Regions from separate parts of the Homo sapiens genome. Here region 2 is linked to region 1. Evidence: fine-mapped expression QTL. Tissue or cell type: whole blood. Region 1 holds a variant in brackets; the other region holds the start of a gene. All regions are shown on one strand. Distances are between the middles of the regions.

Region 1 (5,669 bases):
GCCCAGCACTACCTAGGTTTTGGGAATCCAGAGACAAATCAGAGAGCAAGGAGCTCAGGGTCTAGTGGAGGAAATAAGTCATATAATCAAATAAATGACTCGACGATGTACTAGGTACAACAAAAGAAATATGTATAAGATCTCAAGGTAGCACAGAAGAGGGGGTGCTGAACACACTTGGGAGGCCCAGTAAACAGCCAAGGGAGGCTAAATTTTGAAGAGCCAGAAGGGCCCTTCCAGAACAAGAAACCTGCATGACCAAATGCCCAGAGACACAAAGCCACATGCCAGAGGCTTCATGCCACTGGGTCTTTGGGGAATAAGAAGACCTGTTATTTTCGAGCCTGAAGTACAAGGTAGAGAGTAGTGGACATTGAGATTTCAGCAAGGGCAGTTCAGGGTGAGCTTTGGGAATAAGTGTTTCGGATTTGAGCCACACTAAAGGTATGTAAACACAAGAAAGGAGATGTCTGTGTTAACTTGCCTTGATAATGCCCCTCTTGTTACCCAATCCCACTGGTTTCAACTTCATCTTCTGGGAACCTATGGTATTTCAAAGACACTGCCTGATCCCTTTCTAGACAAATTTTATGCTTTTGGAAGTGGCATTTCCCCGCTAAGTACTTTATACTGTTTTCTTACAACTTTGCAAAGCATCTGCCATATGGTATTTCTCCCAAGTGAGAGATTATTGCCTCTTTATTGGAGGGGGGGAGCTGAAATGAAGTCATCTGTCCACTGAAGTGACAGCTGCAAGCAGAGATGTACTCTCTAGGCAGCAGGCCTGCCGTCAGAGCCCAACCCGGTGCGCCTTCTCCAAGAGCGGCTGTCCCCTCCCAGCCTCCTGTCGCCGCTTTCCCTTTCTTCTTGCTTCCTGTTATATAAGAGCATTTTTGCAGAGATGAGCTCTGGGCTTGTTCTGAATATTTTAGGTGTCAAACATCCTGTTTTTCTCTGAGTAATGTGACCCTGTCAATGACCCACTGCATTTCAGAATGACATCATGGGATTCAACCGAGAATGGTTGAAGAGAAGTGATTATGGGAGCTCAGGGACCTCTGCTTGCCCCTTTACCTTTCAGCAAGTTGTTTGGAGATGTCAAACAAGAAGTCTGCAAATGAGTGTCTGCTTTGCACAAGAGCAGGGGTTGGCAGACTAGGAACTGCAGACCAAATCTGGCCCACAGAGCAAATCCATTCCCAGCTGATTTTGCAAATAAAGTTTTATTGGCATTCAGCCATGCTCATTTGTTTGAGTATTGTCTAAGGCTGCTTTTGCACTGCAATAGCAGAGTTAAGTTATGTAACAGACCCCATATGGCAGGCAAAGCTGAAAATTTTTACTATCTGGCCCTTGCAGAAAAAGTTTGCTGAACCCTGCGCTGAAGCTCTCTCCTCCTACACCCTAGGAAGAGGGCACATGGATTTAGCGTGCTCTCATCCCATGACTGAGTACCCGCCCATTCCTTTCCCCTCTTCCCCAAACACCTGATACAACAAAAAAGGTAAAGGTTGATTTTCAGCAAGCATATTGGGGCTTTCGTATGTATTAAATGTCATCAGAACTTGCACATTTATTAAATGTGTTGCCTTTCTAAGAAGTTCCCTAAAGAAATTGCACACACTTAGGCTAGGCACGGTGGCTCATACCTGTAATCCCAGCACTTCTGGAGGCTGAGGCAGGCGGATCACCTGAGATCAGGAGTTCGAGACCATCCTGGCCAACATGGTGAAACCCCGTCTCTACTAAAAATACAAAAATTAGCTGGGAGTAGTGGCACACACCTGTAATCCCAGCTACTTGGGAGGCTGAGGCAGGGGAATCACTTGAATCTGGGAGGCGGAGGTTGCAGTGAGCCGAGATCACGCTATTGCACTCCAGCCTGGGTGATAGAGCAAGACTCTTGTCTAAAAAAAATAAAAAGAAAAAAAAAGAAAAGAAAAATGAAATTGCACACTTATTCCAATGTGGCTGCCAGTGTGCCAGACATTGCAGGGAGTACTCTTCAGAGCCAAGCTATGTGACACCTGAGAAAATCCACTTCACCTTCTTTTTGGACCCAAAGTAGTGCAGCCTTGTTGGAACATCTGCCTAGTTGCCATGGATCAATGTTGGCTTATTTTTTCAAACAACAGCAAATTCAGCACTAAGGATATTCCAAGGAATTGGTTGCATGTTCTGAGGTTAGTTCCTTAAAAAGTGCTCAACATACGATGTCTTCAGAGGCAAGGTATCTTCACCCAAGGACTTGAGAGTCAAAGTTAGACTTTGGAAACAACTTTTGGAATTGTAGTGCATGTTTTCAGCATTTGGGCCATTCTATGTCTTACAAAATGAAATGTTCAGTGTGTGGCTCTCTCCTCTCTATTTAGGGACTGTATCCATACTTCAAAGGACTTTACCATCTGTCTTGTATTTCCCCATCTCTTCCCAGCTGCTGTTAGTGGATTTTGCTATGGCATGGTGCATTGTACCCATTTGGCTAATAATGGCATGAGCTGAGGGTTGAGGAAGCCCTCTGCTCAGTTCCGTTTATCACAGCCAAGTTTGGATAGGAAAGAGTCCCCTAGGAGCTGGAATGTGGTATACTATGGATGGGCATGTCAGCATTCACTGGCCCTGCTCATATCATGGACCACAGTGTGCTCTGGACTGCGGGGTGGAGGCGGTGTGGAGTTTGGTGGTTTTAGAAAACCGTGAAATGCCTACTTATTGCTCCACATTTTTGCTTTCTCATTTTCCTTAAGCCCATTCCACAATG[A/G]GGGTATTGGTGTGGTCACTCCTGAAGCAAAAAGATAACAAGTTGCTTTTCAGCTTTTTAGCTTTTTTGGTCATTTCTTACTTCTTTTCCTCCCCGCCTTTGCATCCAGAGCCACTGTCTCCCACACGAAGCGTCTTAAATTTTTATGAGCTCACAGTTGCTTCACTGATTTCTGTGCTGCCAGAGTCTGAGATGCAGGACTCAGCGGGGACTTGCTCAGATCTGTTTGTGTATATACTTCCCACTAAACTCGATGTGCTTGCATGAGTGAGAATAATCAAGTGCATTACTCAGAAGCAAGGAAGAGTAGGGCTGGAGCCACAAGAGCAAATCCCTCCCCAGTTCTCCTGGATTTGCACCACCCCACCTCACTACCCAGTTCTGGATCAATCAGAGGTAGCTTGGGTTGAGAGGCTCTTTTGTTCTGAGTTTTTTTTTTTTCCTTCAGAGACCAGAATTTAAGCTTGAGCTGCTTTCTCGCCTGGGGAGAGGAGTGGGACCCAGTCCTGATATTATGGGGCCCAGTCTTTGTGTCTTGGTGCCCAAAAGAAAGCTGAGACCCTTAGACCACTCATGGTGCAGAGAGAGGAGCTGGTCACACCATATATGTGTGTACTACACATTTCTTCATGAACATATATGCCTTTTGCACACATGGTGACTTGGTCCCACTGGACCTTTCCAAGGACAGGAATGATGTCTTCTATTGTTTGTGCAACATCACACATAGACTAGTGTCTTGGACCAGAGGACACATAGTCTGCTTAATTGTCTACAACAATATGTAAATAGCAAGCAAGTGGGACTTTGAGGCGTTTGTTTTTTTATTTTGAGCTTAATTTCTATTCTGGTAGTACTTAATAATCAAGTAATTTGTCTGTGAATCCTCCAAGGGTCGAATCCCACAGGACTTCCATCAATCAGCCAGCATCCAAAGGAACTTGTGCTTTGTTCATAAAATGCCTGGCATCACTGGTCCTTGGGAGATGGCCAAACTGGCATGGCTCGCCACGAAAGAGAGGGGTGGGGGAGGGACTCTTTGCTAGAGAGCTTTTCGGCTTGCAATTTTAAAAAAGGAAAGCGGGTAACTTCAGAACTGTTTACTGGAAGGCACAGGACCTCAGTTTTGATGCTGAGAGAGGGAGAAGTTGTCTTGGCAAGGGCTCTGTTTCGGTTTACTTCTTAGTATTCACAGGGGTAAGGAGCCCTGTTTAGTAAGTTGGACACGTTCTGGTGGGCAAAGCTTCTGGAGGTGGAAATGATGGCTCTTTGTTCTCAGTTGGGGAGGTTGGGGGGTTGTTTGAAGACAGCTCAAGGCCGGACAGAGATGCAATGCAGGGACTCTTAGCCCACATTCCTCTTCACTGCCTTCCAGAAAAGCTGAGATTGTTCAAAAGGACCATTAGACCTCCAGATAGCTCAGCCTTGCCCTGGGTTCTATCATTAGCCAATGGTCTACTGTTTTTCATGAGTGTCCATGTGTCCATGTGTTATCTGTGTCCCAGGTCTTACCTGTCACTGACTAACAAGTCTCCAGCACCGACCCAAATTTCTAAAAAGCTGCCGTCTGCCAGCCTCTCCCTTCAGCCTGCCATAGGGGGCAATTTGTTTTTTCTTCCTATATCAAGAGTCTGCCCCATCTGGAAACGTAGAAAAAGAACCTTCCCTAGTGTCCTCCTTTAATTAGTGCCAGAGGTGATGCATGCTGGGAGAATGTAGGCCACCCCTAGGGAACATCTGATGACTTATCTTAGATCCCAGCTGGGGCAGCACAGGCTCCTCACTTGGTTTACCATTTCCACTTGAGGATTGCTGCTCTCCTCTGAGGGTTACCTTTGATTGTTTGATTGACTGATCATTCACTATCAGTTCATTCATTCAACTTATCCAACATGTATTCATCCAACACTCATCCTACCACATTCCAAGCATTTGCCTAGATGCTGTGTTACAATGTGGGGCAAAACCAGACAAAGGCCCTGTTTCTATGGCATGTATATTCCTTCTGGTGAAAACAGCCAATAAACAAAAAAGAAACACACAAACATGGAAAAGATCCAAGAGTGGCAAATGCAACACAGAGAATGAAAGTAGGGTGATGTGATAGAGTGACTGGGGGGCTAGCTCAGATAGCATGGTCAGGACAACATCCATGAGCAGAGCAGACTTCAAACAGCAATCTGAAGGATAAGTAGCCAGACTTTCAAAGGTGAGGGTGAGGAGTATTCTAGGTATAAGGATGAGCTGATGGAAAGAGCCTGCTATGAGCTAGACCCGACATGCAGAGGGGAACAAAAGAGAAGAGGTAATTCCAGCTACGTGGGAGAGTAAGGTGGGAGGATCACATGAGGCCAAGAGTTTGAGATCAGCCTGGGCAGCATAGAGACACTCCATCTCCAAAAAAATATTTAAAAATTAGCTGGGTGTGATGGCTCATGGCTGTAGCCCCAGCTACCAAGGAGGCTAAGGTGGGAGGATCACTTGAGCCCAGTAATTGGGAGGCTGCAGTGAGCTATAATCATACTACTGCACTCCAGCCTGGGCAATGGAGTGAGACCCCCTTTCTAAAACTAATAATAATAAAATTAAATTTTTACAAAAAGAGGGAAGACGTCCCTTCTCCCCAGTGCTAATAATTTAGTTAGGAAGACAGACGGATAGATAGGCAGTTACAATGCAGTTAGATCAATGCTATGACAGGAAAAGCAGACAGAAAGCTCTGGAAACATAGAGTAAAGGTTCTGAAGGCTGAGTGTAAGGATCGGAGAAGGCTTCCTGGAGGAAGAGGCATTTAAGCTGAGTAGAAGTTAGCCAGGTCAACTGGGAGAGGATGTGTGGAGGGAAAAATGCTCCCCTGTCTAAGCAGAAGGGACCACAAGTGTGAAGGGCCACTACTCACAGTGCAGCA
Region 2 (5,669 bases), 130 kb after region 1:
TTTGCATATTTATCTTGTTACACTTGAAAGTAAGGACTGTATTTTATTCTTTGTGACCAGTAAAATACCTTGCACCACATAGTAGGGCATCTGTCCAATAAATGCTTGTCATATACAATAAAGCAATGGCTGGGGCGGCATTATCTACAGGTTAACCCAATAATAGGTCATAATGTATCTGCAGATAGTAGGACCATAAGGATGTGTAGATAAACCCTGAAGTAAATGATTCGCAGAGGGTCACATGGAAGGGAAACAGGGAGTTTGATACCTAGCACTCACTGAAAAAAGCGTCCGGATACTGCTAGAGTGTGAGACTAGAAGGCCTGAAATGTAACCATCATACACCAAAGAGAGTTGCTCCCAAACACCAGCCAACTCCACCAATAGTATATAAAGGTGCGTTGTAAACAGTACAGTGATTCTTAAAGATATTATTAAACATCATACTGTTAATATATAACAAGATTGACTAATATGCCAATGAAACCCGTGACTCCAGGTACCTGTGAAATAGCCAGCAAGGGTTCTGAGCCACTGATCCAAGACAGGACAAAGTTACCAACTATTCTTCCTAAGAAATTGTTTCTCATCATGCAAGGGGCTGTTTCTGTCTTGGTTTTGTGGAAGGTCTAATTCTGTGGCTTGAGGACATCTGCAGTAGGGCCAGATGTCAGAGCAGGTAGTGGTCATGCTTCATGAAGTTTTTAGGAGGGCACAGTTACCTGGTTGATGCAAATGGAAGTAACTGGAATAAATGCTATTGTTGCAGGCCCAAGCTCCCAGTCCATCCTGGCTGGTCATAGTTGACTAATTCATGGTGGTCAAAAAGTGATTCTCTTGTCTTTGAATTTTCTCTTGTATTTTAGGCAAAACAGATTTGTTTTTTGATACTTTCATAAAGCTGTCTATCCATATTCTGTTGTCACTTTTCAAAATGATCAGAAACCTAAAGAACTACCATACTTGCCTAAAAGAAGACACTTCCTGATGCATAGCTTGAAACAGGAATTGACTTCCTAAAGGAAAGTATTTGGCACACCAAGCCTATTGTTCACAGCGCTGCAAGAGAGGCATTTCAACATACATGGGCTCTTCCTAAAAATATAACTTGCTAAAATAAAAAATTCAGGGTTCATTAAGGTTAATCATCTAATAAAGTAAGAGAATTTCCTCTAGGTGAAAAGTTTCAGTTTATTTTAGGGGTGTGGTGTTGTTACAACTGGCTAATCTCCGCACCATAATTTAATCAGGCTGGATGAGAAAGAGACTAGAAAGGCGTGGAGCCAGAGCACAGTGTAGCTTCTCTTCTTTTCCCAGGCTTATTTTTTTCCTCTAACATGTAATAAATTTACTCGTAACAACCTGGCTTTTATTGTGTCATTTTCTAGCTAACTGGGAGTTACTGATGTCAGTTGTCTTTTAGAATAACTTTTCCTTAAACATTTGAAGATCGTAAGAATTGGGGAACTCATTCATTCATTTATTCATGGAGCATTTACTGCTCACCTACTGTGTGCTATAGGAACATGAAGACAAGCAAAGCACTGCCCTGGCCCTCAACCTGGTAGGGGAGATGTGTGAATAGGGCCAAAACCACTTAAACAAGACAGTGGCTATAAAGGTGTCTGTACCAGCGAGAAGGTCAGCTGCCTTCCTTGAAGTTGAGTGGCCAAAACCACTTTCAGGATTGCAGGTGGGACTATGTTTTGGAGGCTTGATGGATTTTTCAGTTATTTAGTTCATTCTTTCAAGGAATAGTTATTGAGAGCCTCCTGGGAGCTGGGCAGTGTTCTAGGCTCTGGGGCCACTGCAGTGAGCTCCAGTACTAAATCCCTGCCTTCATGGAGCAAAGCAGGAGATCAGACAGCAAGGAGAGAAATCAGTGCAATACCAGCAGACTTGAAGTAGGGAAAGGAACAACCATGACTCTGGGCACAGGGGACAGTGAGGAGGCCAGTGAGGTGGGAGTGAGGGAAAGGGGGCTAAGGGTAAGGCCAGAGAAGGAATGTGGAAGAAGGTCCTGGAGGGACTTGGGGGCTTTCTTTTCCTAGAACATGCTCCTAATAGCCAGCCCCCAGACATCTGATGGCCTGTTGAGCTATTACAACATTTTAGGTTGATGTCTTCATTTTCATTCATGTTTTTCCTTTTATTGTCCCTGATGCTGAAAAACAAGAGGTTGAGTTTGTGAGACAAAATGTCTTCATTGTGTGTGTGATGGGGATAGGCATAGTCTCCCCATCTTGTTCTGTGCTGTCTGCCGTTAAGGAGGTGGGGAGATTACGATCACTCTCCTTTCCTGTACAGTAATCTGCTGATCTCTGGAACATACTAAGGAGGACATAGAGTGACAACATCTATAATCCCCTTAATCTCTATATTCATACTGTCTAATCTCCTTGAGTTACACTGGTAACATAAGTCTATCTCTTAGAGTTACTTTTATCATTAACAGCACAAAAATGTATTATTTACAGGGCCAAATGCAAGCTCTTGAGGCATATAAAGTGGATTAATAAGGTTGGCTCAGCGTTAAGCTATGCCAGAGCCGAGTCCAAATTTTATTCCGGTACAGGGATGACTTTCTATGTGGCCTCTCTGGCTCTGGAGCTAATTTGGATGCTGAGTAGCCCCGCAGGTATTTATATGTAGCGTTTGGTATTTTTACTGGGTCCTATTCTTCTCCCTTGGATCACCTAAAATGGTTAAGAATTTTCTAGTGGGATTAAGGTTGTGATCTCTGGGGAGGGGTGGGACATCTGCTCTCGGTTATTTTTGTGTTAGCCGCTTCCCCTTAAATGTATGTTCACAAATGAGCCACAGCCTTATCAGCTGGGGTTGAGGGAAGACTGGTCTAGGTGCTGCTCCTGAACTTGGTCTCTGAGCCATGGCTTCCCATAGACACTCAGGTAAAACTTCATGCTCTTTATCTTATATTGAGCACAGTTTTGTTAGGGCAGTGAATCCGTCATTGGGCTAAAAGATGGTTTTTGATGAAATGATTTTAGTCTTGTCTGAATAGTAAATAAATTATAGCTTGTCTCTGTTTTGCCTTTGCCTTTCATGCTATTTCAAAGACAAAATATTGTTCAAGTACAATGAACAGTTTGAGTGATTTATTTTAAAAAGAAGTATATAAACATGTTACCACTATATTTTTACCTTTTTCAGGACATCTCATGAAACTATAAGAGATTGTGGGAGGAAAGGTTTTTCTGGTTAGGAATTTTTGGCTTTCTTTTTTATAAGATACAATTCTTCATCTTGACAGTGCTTTACATCCAAGGTGTTTGGAGAAGGTAAATCGAATGTGGAGCTGAAAGGAGGAACATTTGTAACTAAGAAAGTCCATAATGACCTAGCACATCTTCCCTTTTGCTGACAATGTTTTAAATCTTCCCGAAGTAACAGCTATGTTCCTTTTGATATGCTAAGTATGTTATTAATTGTTTTTAGCAGAAAAAGGGGCACATTTTGGACTCCTTGGGACATGAGCATTTTCTTCTGGTTTTGTAACCTTACAATTAAGGAAGCCCTTTGGCCATCGACAAGAAATCTATGAACTAGGGGCTGAGGGGCCAAAAGCCCAGTTATTTGAAGCCAGGAGGGTGGCTGTGGCCCTGTGGCCCTCTGCCTAAGTAACGGTTCCCTTTCTTGGGGCTGGTAAAGTCAGACGGTTAGATATAAAGAAGGCACTTCATCCTGTCTCCCAGCTTTCAGATTAAGGGATGTCATTATCTATGTTTTTTTTTTTTTTTGAAAAATCATTTTTTAAAACTCATTGCCTGTCAATATTTAAACAATGGAAATACTTTAGGAAATTTCTCTTTTTGGGGTTTTAAATATGCTGCAATGGAATGCCCTACCTTAATGAATTAATATGTAATGTCTTCCCTGTTCCCAAGTGTTCAAAAGTTGTCTGGTTTTTTTTTTTTTCCAACCCTCAGGAGCTGTTTCACAAACATGGTACCAAATGCTTGAGATTGTGGTTATCAGCCAAGATACACATTCTCTGGGTGTAGGCAAACTAGTCAGCTGTGCTAGTTGTCCTGATGAACCTTAAATGCATGTTACCTGGTAGAATAACTCTCATTTTGTTTACTAATTAAGTGACAGAATAGTGACAGAAAGTTTAAAAGTTTAAATAGTGACAGAAAGTTTATAGCATACCCAACCTTGGGTTTTAAATTGCACCAAATTCTTATGTCGTTCTTGTGTATGTAAGTCTGGAGGCTCTAATAACTGTGGCTAAATGGGACCAATTATTTATACCTTTTAGATGATTTTTGAATTCAGGAAATTGCATTTTGTATTGCATTAGGTTAATAGATTCATGAAAGCAGAGAAGAATCAGTCCATGAGACAGAGAAGTCCTCATAGAAAATCAGTGTTGCCCTGAAACGGGCTCAGTATGGGCAAAATAGAAGCTAGGATAATTGGATCCAAATCCATTTTTAGTGACTATCCATATACTGAGAGGACATTTCAAGGACAAAAACAATGTATACTCTTGACATTGAAGACTTTCTGTCTGCAAAATTATGTAGATTCAATTTCTTTAGCCTTTGGCCTTTCAAGTCGAAAACCAGGTTTGGGGTGTGGAGGGGGATCAGGTCACTTGCCATATTACACAGCCATCGATTCCCTTCACCAGCTGCTGCTCAGTGGGCCGCACAAGCCCGCCAGTCTTTTCTCAGGGCAGGGATGGAAAATGAGAGGGTAGGATGAGAGGAAAGTAATCCAACTGGATTGGCTTCTTAAAATACAGAAGATTTGAGTGAGAGTGAAACTGAACATTTTGTGCTTTTGATGACCACCAAATGACTACCTACTACTTCACCACAGCTGGAGAAACTAAAAACACATGCTCTTTTGCTGCCGGGTCAGAAATGCTTTTTTTCCCATATGAAAGAGGGGCTGTGTTGCACGTAATCTGTGCAACATTATGAAAAATCTTCATATACAGACAAAATGGTACTAGAATTGAATCTGGACTGCAGGAAGTTCAGTGGCACATAATTTTTCTTTTAATAATCTATATCGAACCCTCCTGACACCCGATATAATCTAAAATGGCATTAGTTATACATCAGTGACCCAAAAAAGATTTGTTTTTTTTCTAAATGCAGCATACCAGTGAAGTTGCTAATTACATTGAATCATTCTGTACACGTTCTATTTTGAAGGGAAAAAACACTTTCTGATTTTTGTATGAAATTGTATGAAAGACTACTTTTCAGCCGTGACTCATGAGCTCCGTCTCATTGCAGCTACTTAGGTATTTATTCCCAAATGTCTGACGACACCTCCAGGTGCATTAGCATGTCTATTACACAAGTGTCCTATTCATTGGCTAAGGCTTTGCTCCATCTGTTGAATGTTCTGAGGAAAGCATTATACCCTTTCTTTAGAAGCCAGTGTTTATATGTGGAGTCACTAATGTACTGGTAGGTTGGATTTAGTGAAGAACAGATCTGAAATAACCTGATTTTTTTCCATTTGGGTTGTTGTTCATTGTTTACACTGTACATTACACCCTTCATGGAAAACACATAGAAAAATGCTACCTACTCATGATATTCACATTCTCCTTAAATATTCATAGTTTGAGCAACTCAGGCATGAGGGAGAAGATGAACAATAGGAAGAAATACATGAGAAAATAC

The links. PIP is the estimated chance that this variant, and not a neighbour inherited with it, causes the effect.
Region 2: it holds the start of FHL1, and the variant in region 1 is fine-mapped to the expression of FHL1 in whole blood (TOPMed, PIP 0.98).

What each region holds. Positions count from the first base shown.
Region 1 is chrX:136,064,363-136,070,031 of GRCh38, forward strand. No RefSeq gene overlaps it. Among named protein-coding and RNA genes, the nearest start is that of SLC9A6, 82 kb to the left of the region's middle. The variant A/G (reference allele first, on the strand shown) is at 2,762.
Region 2 is chrX:136,194,223-136,199,891 of GRCh38, forward strand. It overlaps FHL1 (four and a half LIM domains 1), which reads left to right and starts at 2,825. Exons shown (of 6, transcript NM_001159699.2): 1 at 2,825-2,912. The coding sequence starts at 2,891.